3 linked regions of the Homo sapiens genome follow. The protein of the gene in region 2 purifies or fractionates together with the protein of the main gene of each other region. This does not show direct contact. Each region holds a gene or a part of one and is shown on either strand. Other genes may lie near its edges.

Region 1 (3,752 bases), on a different chromosome or scaffold from region 2:
GAATCAAAAAACATTGAGAAATATTAAGTATTTCCTTACCTGTTTCTTTAAATTTTCAACCATCTTCTGAACTGCAGCATTTTCTTGTTTTACAGTTTCCGTTTTTTGCCTAAAAGGAATGATGAAAATAAAATTTAATGGTTAGGCTTTAAAAGCTGAAGTAAAAGAATTTTAGTCTTTGCAAAAATGTCTTAGGAAAATGTAAGTATACGTCTTACCACATTTCTTCCTGAGATCCATTTAATGTCCCTAATTTCAGGTTAGAAATGCTATCTTCTTCATTTAAAGTAGTAATTTCATTTCTCAAAATAGAATTTTCCTGTTGAAGCTTTTCAGATTCATATCTGAAGCACAGAGATTGAAAAAAATTGTTACAAGGCAGTCATCTGGCATCTTTGGAAAATATTTTCTAGTAACTTCCAAAAGGATGAGTATTCAATGCCAGTTAAAAAGAAAAGTCTAAATTAGTAGTCTCTTAGTATTTGGAAATCGAGTTATGACATATTGACACATTTCTTTTGGGAAGTAAGAATTTCACTAAAAGATGTTAGAGAAGTGTAGCTAAAAAACCCTTAAGCCTGGAGAAATGAATCAAGACTCAATGCTCATTCTGGTTGTTGATTTTTCTCAATGGCAAGCATACTGCTTTGAGCAAATGTCTTCATTTATCTCAGTCTCAAGTCCTACCTGTTCTGAATACACATAAGCCATGTTACAAAGCTATATTAGCTTAGTTTTAGGCCCCTGGGTACCTAGGGAAAGAAAATTCTCTATTGAAATCAAAGGGCCACAATGAAATATGTACACTGTTTACTTTGTGATTTTATTCATCTCATTATATTCTGATTTTTAGGACTAAAAATGGTCTGAAGAAGAGGAAAAACTACATTCAGAATTAAATTATTTCAGAGACATTTCAGACGTCCTGTAATAGTTTACAAGTTTTTTTTTTTTTTGAAAAACCAAATTTGCTAGAAGACTATGCAATTATATTTTACAATGTCAAGTGGGCAGTGGTTCAAATTAATTCTACTTGTATCTCTGCTTTTCAAGCATATTTATTAGAATCTGGAGGCTCCTCAAATTATATGTTCTAAGATAAATTTCCACTGTTTGTTTTGTCTCTTTTTTTTTTTTTTTTTTTTTTTTTTTTTTAAAAGAGACAGGGTCTCACTCTGTCACCCAGTCTGGAGTACAATGGCATGATCATGGCTCACTGCAGCTTTGACCTCTCAAGCTCAAGCAACCCTCCCACCTCGGCCTCCCAAGTAGCTGGGACCACAGGTGTGCACCACCACGCCCAGCAAACATTTTTTTATTTTTCTGTAGAGGCAGTCTTGCTATGTTCCCTAGGCTTGCCTGGAAACTCCTGGCCTCAAGAAATCCTCTTGCCTTGGCCTCCCAAACAGTTGAGATTGCAGGCATTTAAGCCATGGTGCCTGACCATTTGCACTGTTTATGGGTTATCAGCATGTGCTTCAAGTGATATGAGTACAAAACTATAAAGACAGAACATTTTTTCTATATTAGCATAAGAAGTGAGTTCTTATCTACTAAGTTAATAATACACAAAAAATCATTCATTTGTATATAACATGTTTCCTCAAAATGAGGAAAGTAACACTTAGCAAAATAAAAAAAAAAAATCCCCTATCCATCTAAATGAAATAAGTGCTAGAAAAAAGTTAAAGAGGTACATTGAGGATGCACATGGTTAAACAGCAAACACTCGCCATTGTGAACTTTCACACCCCATATGAACACTTGTTTGCTACAGCGGAAGGGAATGCCTCCTAAACAAGGTTATTTTATTTGTTAATACGGCACAGAAGCAGAAGGAAGTCTAGAGAGTACTGCTCTCTTCGTGAAGACTACTAGGTTAGTTTCTCTAGGCACGGCAAGCAGTGGAAGTTAGATCTGGTGAGGTGCTCTGTGGGATTCGTGACGTCTAGAAGGTACATACATTACCTCAGAAGTTCAACTTTTTGCTGCATCTCACTGCACGTGATCTGCAAGTCATGCATCATTGCCTTCAGCTCTTCCTCCTTTTCTCCGTGAGAAAGTACATCTTTTTGCTTAACTAAAATAGTGACTCTCTCCTTCAACTTCCTAGTCAGCTCCTGTAACTTTGTTTTCTCCAGTTCTAACTCTGCTATGGTGGCCTGATGCTGAAAATGTTTGTCTTGAAAGCCTAGGAGAGTAGTGTTTTCCTCCAGTATAACTTGATTCTGTACTCTTGGCCTTTCTTGATGTGTCTGAATTGTTCCATGTAACCAGGCAATTTCATGTGCTTTTACTTTTTCCAAGAGCTGTGTGTTCCCCTCAAGGTACTGGTTTTCTTGCTTACATTCCTCTATGACATGATGTACACTCCTAACCCTGGGCACACACTCTTCCAGTGTCTGATTGAGCTGGAGTATATTTCCATCAGGTTCGATTTCCAGGTTCTCTAAACTGGCTTCCCATAAGCAGCAGTCACACCGCTGGACCACGCTTTCCTGAAGCTTCTCAATCTTGCCTTGAAGTCTCAAAACCAGAACATTCAGCCCCTCATTTTCTATTTTGACCTCATCGTAACTCTTTTCCAGGCTGAGGAATGTTTCAGTGACTTCCTCCATTTTCTTCAGCTCATCCTGCAACCTGAAAACCTCTGCAGTGAGTTCTTTGTTATTTTCTAGTGCCTCATCGTAGCGTGTCTCCATCATTCTCAGCTCTTCCTGAAGGCAGTCATTTTCTCGGCTCACATCTTCATACAACAGCTTATATTTGGGAGAAGCCTCAGGGATTCTCTCAAGCATCTTCAGTTTCTTTTTTAGCACAGAAACATCAAAAAGTAGGTCCTGTTTCTTTTCAGAAGCTCGATCACAGTCCGCACATAACATCATTAGCTGTTCCTGAAGCTGACTAATCTGATTCTTCAGCTCCCAGGATTCAGTCCTGGTCTCTTCACTGTTTTCAAGCTCAGAAAAACCCTCTACTGAAGCTTCAGACTCCTCTATTTTGACTTCCTGTCTCTGAACAGAGCTCGTCCCTGTACTTCCCAGGTCCCGGACCTCATCATCTTCCAGGTCACTTAGGACATGCCGCCTGGTCACACCTTCTACTTGCTTCGTTCGGTTTTGCTGTAAAAACTGCTCTGTTTGTTCCGCAGTATTTCCAAAAAACTCAGTAGCTGGCTCATCCAAACAAGAAGACATTACTAACCCTGGCTCTAACTTTTGTAGCCTCTGTTGCAATCTAGAAATTTCAGTAGCCATTTTCACATTTTCCTTCACTGCCTGTTCATGAGCTCTCTGCAGGCTTAAGAGGACGTCCCCATTTTCTTCCAACAGCTGCTCCCCTTGCTGAAGCAGGGACAGGGCTCCATCTCCTTCCACCTCCTCCTCTCCTATCACCTGGCAACCACTCTGAAGCATTGAGAGAGGAGATGTTGCCTGCTGCATTTCCTTTATTTTACTCTGAAGTCTGGAGATTTCTGTGCTCATCTCGGCTCTTTCTCGATCTGCTGTCTCACAGGTCGCTTTGTGAATGTTCTCCATGGCTAGAAGCTTGGACATCATTTCCTGCCTTTCCTGGTCATGTTCCATTTCTAGTCTTTCCAGCCGCTGGCTGGCCAGCTGCTCCGAAGCCCCTGCCTGGCACAGGACCTCCTCACGCTCCCTCAGTTCCCTTTTGTGACTGCTCTTCAGCTCAAGTATCTGGTCAGACAGCAGGCTTTGCTGGGTTTCAGATACATTTCTTAGGTCTTCCAG
Region 2 (3,752 bases):
CTTCCAGTCCTGTTTCTTGTCTTTTCCCTATCTTAACAGCATCATTTGATGAACAGAACTTTGTACTTTTGATGAAGTGTAACAACTTTTTATGTTTGCTGTGTTTTGTGTACTAAGAAATCATTGCGTAACCCACGGCTGTGCCAATAATCTCTTAATGTTTTCTTCTAGAAGACTCAATGGTCTTTTCCAGACTCATTGCACCCACAGGGAGTTTTCTTGTAAAAATTCACTAATGGCAACACAAATGGTAGTAATGATCATAAAAACAACAATAGTTATTATTTATTAAAATTACACAATATTCCAGTTACACTTTCAAAGACTTTACATGTACCAAACATTTAATTTCCATGATAGCAGTCTCAGGTAGATGTGATTATCCTTATGTACAAATAATGCACATAGTGTCTGTGTGCTGGACAACGCACAGGGGTAGTGAGCCTTTGGCCCAGTGTCTCACAGGGAGGAGGGCGGGGGATGGTGGGGACAACTGGTAGAGTGGGTGGCATGACCAAAGGCTTTCTCACGTGTTACATTAGCAGGGTTATTCCACAGATGCCACGGAGTAAAGACAGAATGGTACTGGTAGTCTTTATGTATTCATTAAACTAACCCACACAATAAAAACATCTACACCAAAAACAAGATCATTCAGAAAAAGTGATTTTTCCACTCTTCAAATTTGCCTCTAGAATGACTTCTGATATTCTGTAAGCAGAAGAGTGATCAGTGGGCTAGGTGCAGTGGCTCACGCCTGTAATCCTAGCACTTTGGGAGGGCAAGGTGGGTGGATCACCTGAGGTCAGGAGTTGAGACCAGCCTGGACAACATGGTGAAAACTGTCTCTACTAAAAATACAAAAATTAGCCAGGTGTGGTGGTGCATGTCTGTAATCCCAGCTACTGGGGAGGCTGAGGCAGGAGAATTGCTGGAACCTGGGAGGTGGAGGTTGCAGTGAGCCAAGACCGTGCCACTGCACTCCAGCCTGGGCAAGAGTGAGACTCTGTCTCAAAAAAACAAAAACAAAAACAAAAACAACAGTGATCAGTGAAGCCTTACGTTAAACTGTACCAGGAATTTTCCTCCTGTTGAGGAAGGAATGGATGTAGTCTAGAGGCCTTCCTATATTCTTTGTACAGCAGTCCCCTCTCACCTGAGGGGGGTACGTTTGAAGACCCGCAGTGGACACCTGAAACCACAGATAGTACGTTTTTTTCCTGTACATATATACGATACTATATACTACATTTTTTCCTGTACATACATATCTAAAGTTTAATTTATAAATTAGGCACAGTAAGAGATTACCAACAGTAACTAACAAAATAGAACAATTGTAACAATATATGTAATAAAATTATGTGAACGTATCTCTCTCCCAAAATATCTTATTGTCATGTAGATCTTAGCAACCTCAGTATATGATTTTTTTCTTTTCTTTTTTAAGTTGAGAACTTTCACCTTTTCATTTAAAAGGAAGCACTTTGTGGCTTCTCTTTGGCATATCCGAATCACCAGCATCACTACTCCTGCTCTCTGGGGCCACTGTTAAGCAAAGTGAGGACTGCTTGGGCACAGGCACTGTGATGCTGGGATAGTTGATCTGATCACCAAGACGGCTACTAAGTCACTAGCAGGGTGGGTGGCGTATACAGCGTGGATGTGCTGGACCAAGGGATGACTCACATCCCCGGCCGGCTGGAGCCGGACAGCGAGAGATTTCATCACGCTACTCAGAAGGGCACACCATTTGAGACTTAAAATTCTTTATTTCTGGAATTTTCCATTTAATATTTTTGAACTGCAGTTGACTGCAGGTAACAAACTGTGGAAAGCGAAACCATAGATACGAGCGGGCTACTGCGTTCAAAAGGCTCTTCAACTGTTGTGGATCCTCTGATGTTCTCGGAGATGGTTTAGGTGGTTACATGCCTTCCCGCACTCCTTACATTCGTAGGATTTCGCCCCACTGTGCGTTTTCTGATGTTGTGTAAGCTGATGGCCGTGACTAAAGCTCTTCCCACATTCTGTACACCCATAGGGTTTCACCCCGGTATGAATTCTCTCATGTTTCACGAGGCTCGATCCATAAATGAAAGCCTTCCCACACTCCTTACATTTATACGGGGTTTCGCCTGTGTGGATTCTCTCGTGCTGAGTGAGGTGATAGCCACAATTGAAGGCCTTCCCACATTCTGTGCACTTGTACGGCTTCTCGCCCGTATGTATCCTCTCGTGCTTAACGAGGCTCGAACCCCAGCGAAAGGCCTTCCCACACTCCTTACATTCGTGAGGCTTCTCACCGGTGTGGATCTTCTGATGCTGAGTAAGGTAATTGACTCGAGTAAAGGCCTTCCCACATTCTTGACATTCATAGGGTTTCTCACCTGTGTGAATTCTTTTATGCTGAATGAGGCTTGAACCACAAATAAAAGCCTTCCCACAGTCTTTACACTCGTAAGGCTTCTCCCCACTATGAATTCTCTTGTGCTGAATAAGTTTATACACACGGCTAAAGGTCTTCCCACAGTCTTTGCATTCGTAGTCTTTCTCCCCAGTGTGGAATCTCTGGTGCTGAGTGAGCTCATCACCACGCCGAAAGGCCTTTCCACAGTCTTTACATTCATAGGGTTTTTCACCAGTATGAATCCTCTTATGAATAACGAGGCTTGAGCCCCATCGAAAAGCCTTCCCACAGTCTTTACATTCGTAGGGCTTCTCCCCAGTATGAATTTTTTGATGTTGAGTAAGCTGATTGCCCCAACGGAAGGCCTTCTTACATTCTTTACATTCATAAGGTTTCTCACCAGTATGGATTTTCTGATGTTGACTAAGTTGATAGCCACGACTAAAGGCCTTCCCACAGTCCTTACATTCAAAGGAATTCTCCTTATGATGTCTCTGATGTGTTCTAGGAGGGGTGCCTTCTCTAGTAGCAGGTCTTTTGACATAATTGATGATCATCTGATTGACATACCTCCCTCTGGAGCGCTGTGGTCTTTCAAGCGTACCTTCACATATCCAGTTACGGCCAAGGGATTTACTTCTTCTATCTGAATTCCTTTTGGAAGCCCTTATTTCATGAATGTTTTTTTCTGTAGGTAAACTCTTATTTTCATATGCTGACTCCAAATCTGGGAAAAAAGAACATATTTTCTTTCCTTTAGAGGGACACAAGTACAAACGAACCTAACCACAAACCAAAAACTCGTCTAATAGAAATAAAAATTATCCAGTAGAATAAATGTGAATCACCCAGGGCTCTTGTTAAAATGTAGATTCTACTTCTGGTACAATACTAACTGAGAATTCATTGGAGACATCTATTTTAAAGTCAGACATGAAAAAGGTCCCGACAATTAGTCCTATTATTTCCTATTTTGAAGATGAAAACAAGTATTTGTAGATGATGTGATGATATACTTGGAAAACCAAATATAGAAGTACTGTAACAAAACAATATGCAGTTGGATGGCTGTGTGTAAAGCATTCTGAAACTGATACACGTATATGTCAGTAGTATTATTAAAAGTAACTGGTAAAGGGCCGGGAGTGGTGGCTCATCACGCCTGTAATCCCAGCACTTTGGGAGGCCAAGGCAGGCAGATCACCTGAGGTCGGGAGTCCGAGACCAGCTTGACCAACATGGAGAAACCTTGTCTCTACTAAAAATACAAAATTAGCCGGACATGGTGGCGCATGACTGTAATCCCAGCTACTCGGGAGGCTGAGGCAGGGAAATTGCTTGA
Region 3 (3,752 bases), on a different chromosome or scaffold from region 2:
GATCACTCCCCTGCACTCTAGCCGGGGCGACAGAGTGAGACTCTATCTTAATAAATAAATAAAGTTTAAGGTGCTTATTTGGATGCTGCTAGTCCTTGGGGCTTTTCCTAGAGCCTATTGGTTTGGACTCAGCCCACATAACTCTCCAACCTTAAAGATTTTGGAAGGAAACTTGATGGCTGGTAATAGCCCTGAGTGATTTTCATCCTGAAGTTTGAAGTAAGGGCATGGATGACAACCATTGGAAGAGTGGAAAGTGTGTTTGTTCTAGAGGTCTCATCCAGGTAAGGGAAATGTTAAAACTTCTGCCTAGGCGTGCTTGGGTAGATAGAAGGTTGTATCTGAAAATAAGTGCAGAGCAATTGAGCTGAGACTGGTCTCCTTTCCATCTCGCTGTTGTCGTGACCAGGGTTGTCATGGTGCTTGAGTGACCTTGTCCCTGATCTGTTGGGCTTGTGAAACATACTTGGCTTGTCACTGATTTTGGATTTCCTCTTCTGTACCCTGATGAATATCAGATAACATCTTTTGGACTGGCACGTGGTATTAAGAATGACAGGTGCAAGGGAACCAAGTCTGGCCATGTCTGATACAGAGCACGTTGGGTATGTCCATCTTCTGGGCCAGCAAAGAACACAGGAGGTCACAGAGGACACGGTGTTTTATAGCTCTTTGCTCACTCTTTCTACCGATTAACTGCCAGTCTTAACTGTTAGAAGGAAAATAGGAGAAATTGTTTATGTTGCTGCCCCTTTAAAGAAAAAAAAAATACTGGGGGTTCCTGAATAGGAACAGAATTTCAGGGACTACTTTAAGAAGTAATCTTGTCTTTTTTATGATTGGGTAAGATTACGAGACAGTCTGTGCCCTTGGTTGACTAGGTCTGTTAGCCTGTTCCAGCCATGGTCTCTCTACATTCCTTGATGCAGCTTAGCCACGAGTTTTGTCACAGTTGCCTGGACATGGGGCATCTGGGCCCCAGACTGTGTCTGGACTGCCATCTCATCTTCAGCAGCGGAAGCCCTCCTCCCCTCCTCAGCCTGTGAGGATTCAGTGTCCCAGGGAAGACTCAGTGCTGACTGGTTAGCTGGCAGAGCCTGAGTTTGACCTTATAAATAGTTCTGATGACTGCATGGGCTTGTCACTCTCACTCCAGCTTAGAGCTGGCAGGAATGAGTTCCTCGTACAATCGGGAGCATTCCTCAAACTAGGCTCCACACCCATTCACTTGTTCATTCATTCAGCAAACACACATATGTCAAGCATTAATATAATCACTGTATACGAAGCTCAGCAATTAAGAAGCACCCACAGACCTGGGTTTGAATCTTGGCTCTGGCAATTCTTGGTGACCCTGTGCAAAATCTCCCTGAACCTCAGGGTTGTTACCTGCAAAGGCGGGTAGGGTAGGGGAAGGGAAGTAGTAATAGATTATCACATAGGAATATCATAAAATTTACCTGAGATAATAGCATGTTCAAACTATGCAGCACAGAGCTTGGCAACTACTGTGTTACTGTAGAGCTTGATAAAAGTTAGCTGTAAGCAAAGTCACCTAAGTGGATCCGAGATGATTCTTGGCTTTAGAACATGGGAGCCAGGTAAATAATTATGCTACCGTGTTCTGTGCTAAAATTGAGACTTGGTCCTTCATTCATTGCAGCTGGTCTTTTGCTTGTCTCTTTTAAAGATCTGCCCCTTCTTTCTCCCCTTGAAAACGTGATAGAACCGAAGCATAGTTCCCACTTGTGCCCACTCCTAGAAAAGAAGTCTGCTAAGCTATAACATCAGTCTAGGGGAACTCATGTCGCCTTAGTTCTCTTGAGAGAGGTCTGGGGAAATGGAGCTTTTCCTCTGAGAGTTTCCCTTCTTAAGTGGTCAGGGATGCAGCCTAGCAACTTCTCCTGCTAAGATTCCTGTGACATGGGGTGAGAGGGGCTGGCCAGGGACTCTTGTAGCTGGAACAGTTTAGAATTCCAAGCCCTCCCTCCCATTGGCCTGAGAAAGGAGTCAGGCTCCAGAGCTCATAAGGTAGTAATTGCCCCAATTTGGGAGCTGGGCTGTTGTGGAGCCTTCGCAGCTACCATTTTCAATCAGGAAGCCTGTCAGCTTGCAGGCCTAATTGATGTGGGTCTCCAGCCCCGAATAGCCCCCAACCCCTAGTTCCTCCACCTCAAAGTTTGACCCCTGTTGTCTCTTTTGTTTCTTCTTTTTAAGTTGGTGCCAGTGATGTGATTTTTGGGAGCTGCGGAAAGTTGACCGTAACCAAGAGCAGCTGTTAAAAAGAGCCAATTCTCTAGCTTCCTGACGGTTGTCTGCCTCCATTTTCTGTTGTGCGTTTTTGATTTAGCAAGAAGCAAACATCCTAGGTGCCCTTGGGCGCCTCTTACGCCCATCCAAGCAGACTTCATTCTTTCACTGCTCGTAGGCATTCCCATTCTTGCTCACAGATGAGCGGACTGGCTGTTAGCGCTCCCTGACACCCTGTTTCCCCATGCGGAATAGGACTCCCCCATCATTCAGGTTCGAATGAGGGGAGGGGCGCTGTCTGGGACCCAACTGGGGATAGCCTGGCTGGGACTTGCTGCAAGCCCTGACTTGGCCTATGGGAGCTCCCCCTCACCTCTATGCACAGCTGAGGATCAGAGCGGCAAGCAGAGCCGGAAACAAAAGACTGGGAGCAAACCTCCCATCTAGCTGAGAGGCAGTGACACAGAGGTGCTGCTGCATAATTTATCACCGGAGGTTTTCTGGAGCCGGGAAGCTCCTGGCTCCAGGCAGTGCCTTTTTGCGGGAGAGGGACCCTCCCTCTGTCTGGGTGTAGGGCAGAGCAGGTACAGAGAAGGGTATCCAGAGAGACACCTGATTAGCATGTGAAATAAAGAAGCTGCAAGGTTGTAAGTGCCTCCAGGGATCTCTCCAAGCTCGGCAGCTCCACTTCCTGTCACGCCTTGGGGGAGGTGGGGAGGGGTAGTGGCCTGCAACCACGCGCTGGCATGGATGAGGACAAGAGACAGCTTCTCTGTTGAGTTGACTGTAGCCTCCTTCTAACCAAGTGGAGAGGCCAGGTTATGGCATCCACAAGCCTAGCAAATAGGAAAGGGGAGCCCCAGGTTTTCCACCCTCCTTCCACGGGCAGTTTAAACAATAAGTTTCAACTACAGGCTCCCAGAGCCAATAAAAGCCAACAACTCTACAATGTATCTTCCCCAAATGAGAATTTCTGCTCTTCTAGGAATGATCTCCTCCAATGACAATTTTTGCAAATTGTGGGATATGTGGATTTACAAATTGGGATATGTGGTTTAAAAAATCCAAATGTATTTCTGGAGCAGTTAGCATTTTTGAGAGCTTTGCTGTGTCCCTGGTACTGTGATAAGCATTTAGTATATGATATCATATTTATTCCTCACAATATCCTTATGAGGTAGGTAACATTAGATTCCCGTCTTACATTGGCCAGGTGCGATGGCTAACGCCTGTAATCCCAGCACTTTGGGAGGCTGGGGTGGGTGGATCACTTGACGTCAGGAGTTCGAGACCAACCTGGCCAACATGGTGAAACCCCATGTCTACTAAAAATACAAAAATTAGCTGACGTGGTGGCACATGCCTATAGTCTCAGCTACTCAGGAGGCTGAGGCTGAGGCTGAGGTGGGAGAATCGCTTGAACCTGGGAGGCAGAGGTTGCAGCGAGCCAAGACTGTGCCACTGCACTCCAGGCTGAGCGACAGAGCGAGACTCCGTCTCAA

What was found.
Region 1: the proteins of ZNF331 (region 2) and NIN purify together in Homo sapiens (affinity purification with mass spectrometry; 2 studies listed by BioGRID and IntAct, with this or other methods). This does not show direct contact.
Region 3: the proteins of ZNF331 (region 2) and LRP4 purify together in Homo sapiens (affinity purification with mass spectrometry; 2 studies listed by BioGRID and IntAct, with this or other methods). This does not show direct contact.

The regions. Positions count from the first base shown.
Region 1 is NC_000014.9:50,754,524-50,758,275, forward strand, and holds part of NIN (ninein), read right to left. Parts: coding exon 1,969-3,752; intron 345-1,968; coding exon 219-344; intron 110-218; coding exon 40-109; intron 1-39. UniProt on the Homo sapiens protein: Centrosomal protein required in the positioning and anchorage of the microtubule minus-end in epithelial cells. May also act as a centrosome maturation factor.
Region 2 is NC_000019.10:53,576,082-53,579,833, reverse strand, and holds part of ZNF331 (zinc finger protein 331), read right to left. Parts: intron 3,138-3,752; coding exon 1,882-3,137; 3' UTR 1-1,881. UniProt on the Homo sapiens protein: May be involved in transcriptional regulation. May play a role in spermatogenesis.
Region 3 is NC_000011.10:46,911,859-46,915,610, reverse strand, and holds part of LRP4 (low-density lipoprotein receptor-related protein 4 precursor), read left to right. Parts: intron 1-3,752. UniProt on the Homo sapiens protein: Mediates SOST-dependent inhibition of bone formation. Functions as a specific facilitator of SOST-mediated inhibition of Wnt signaling.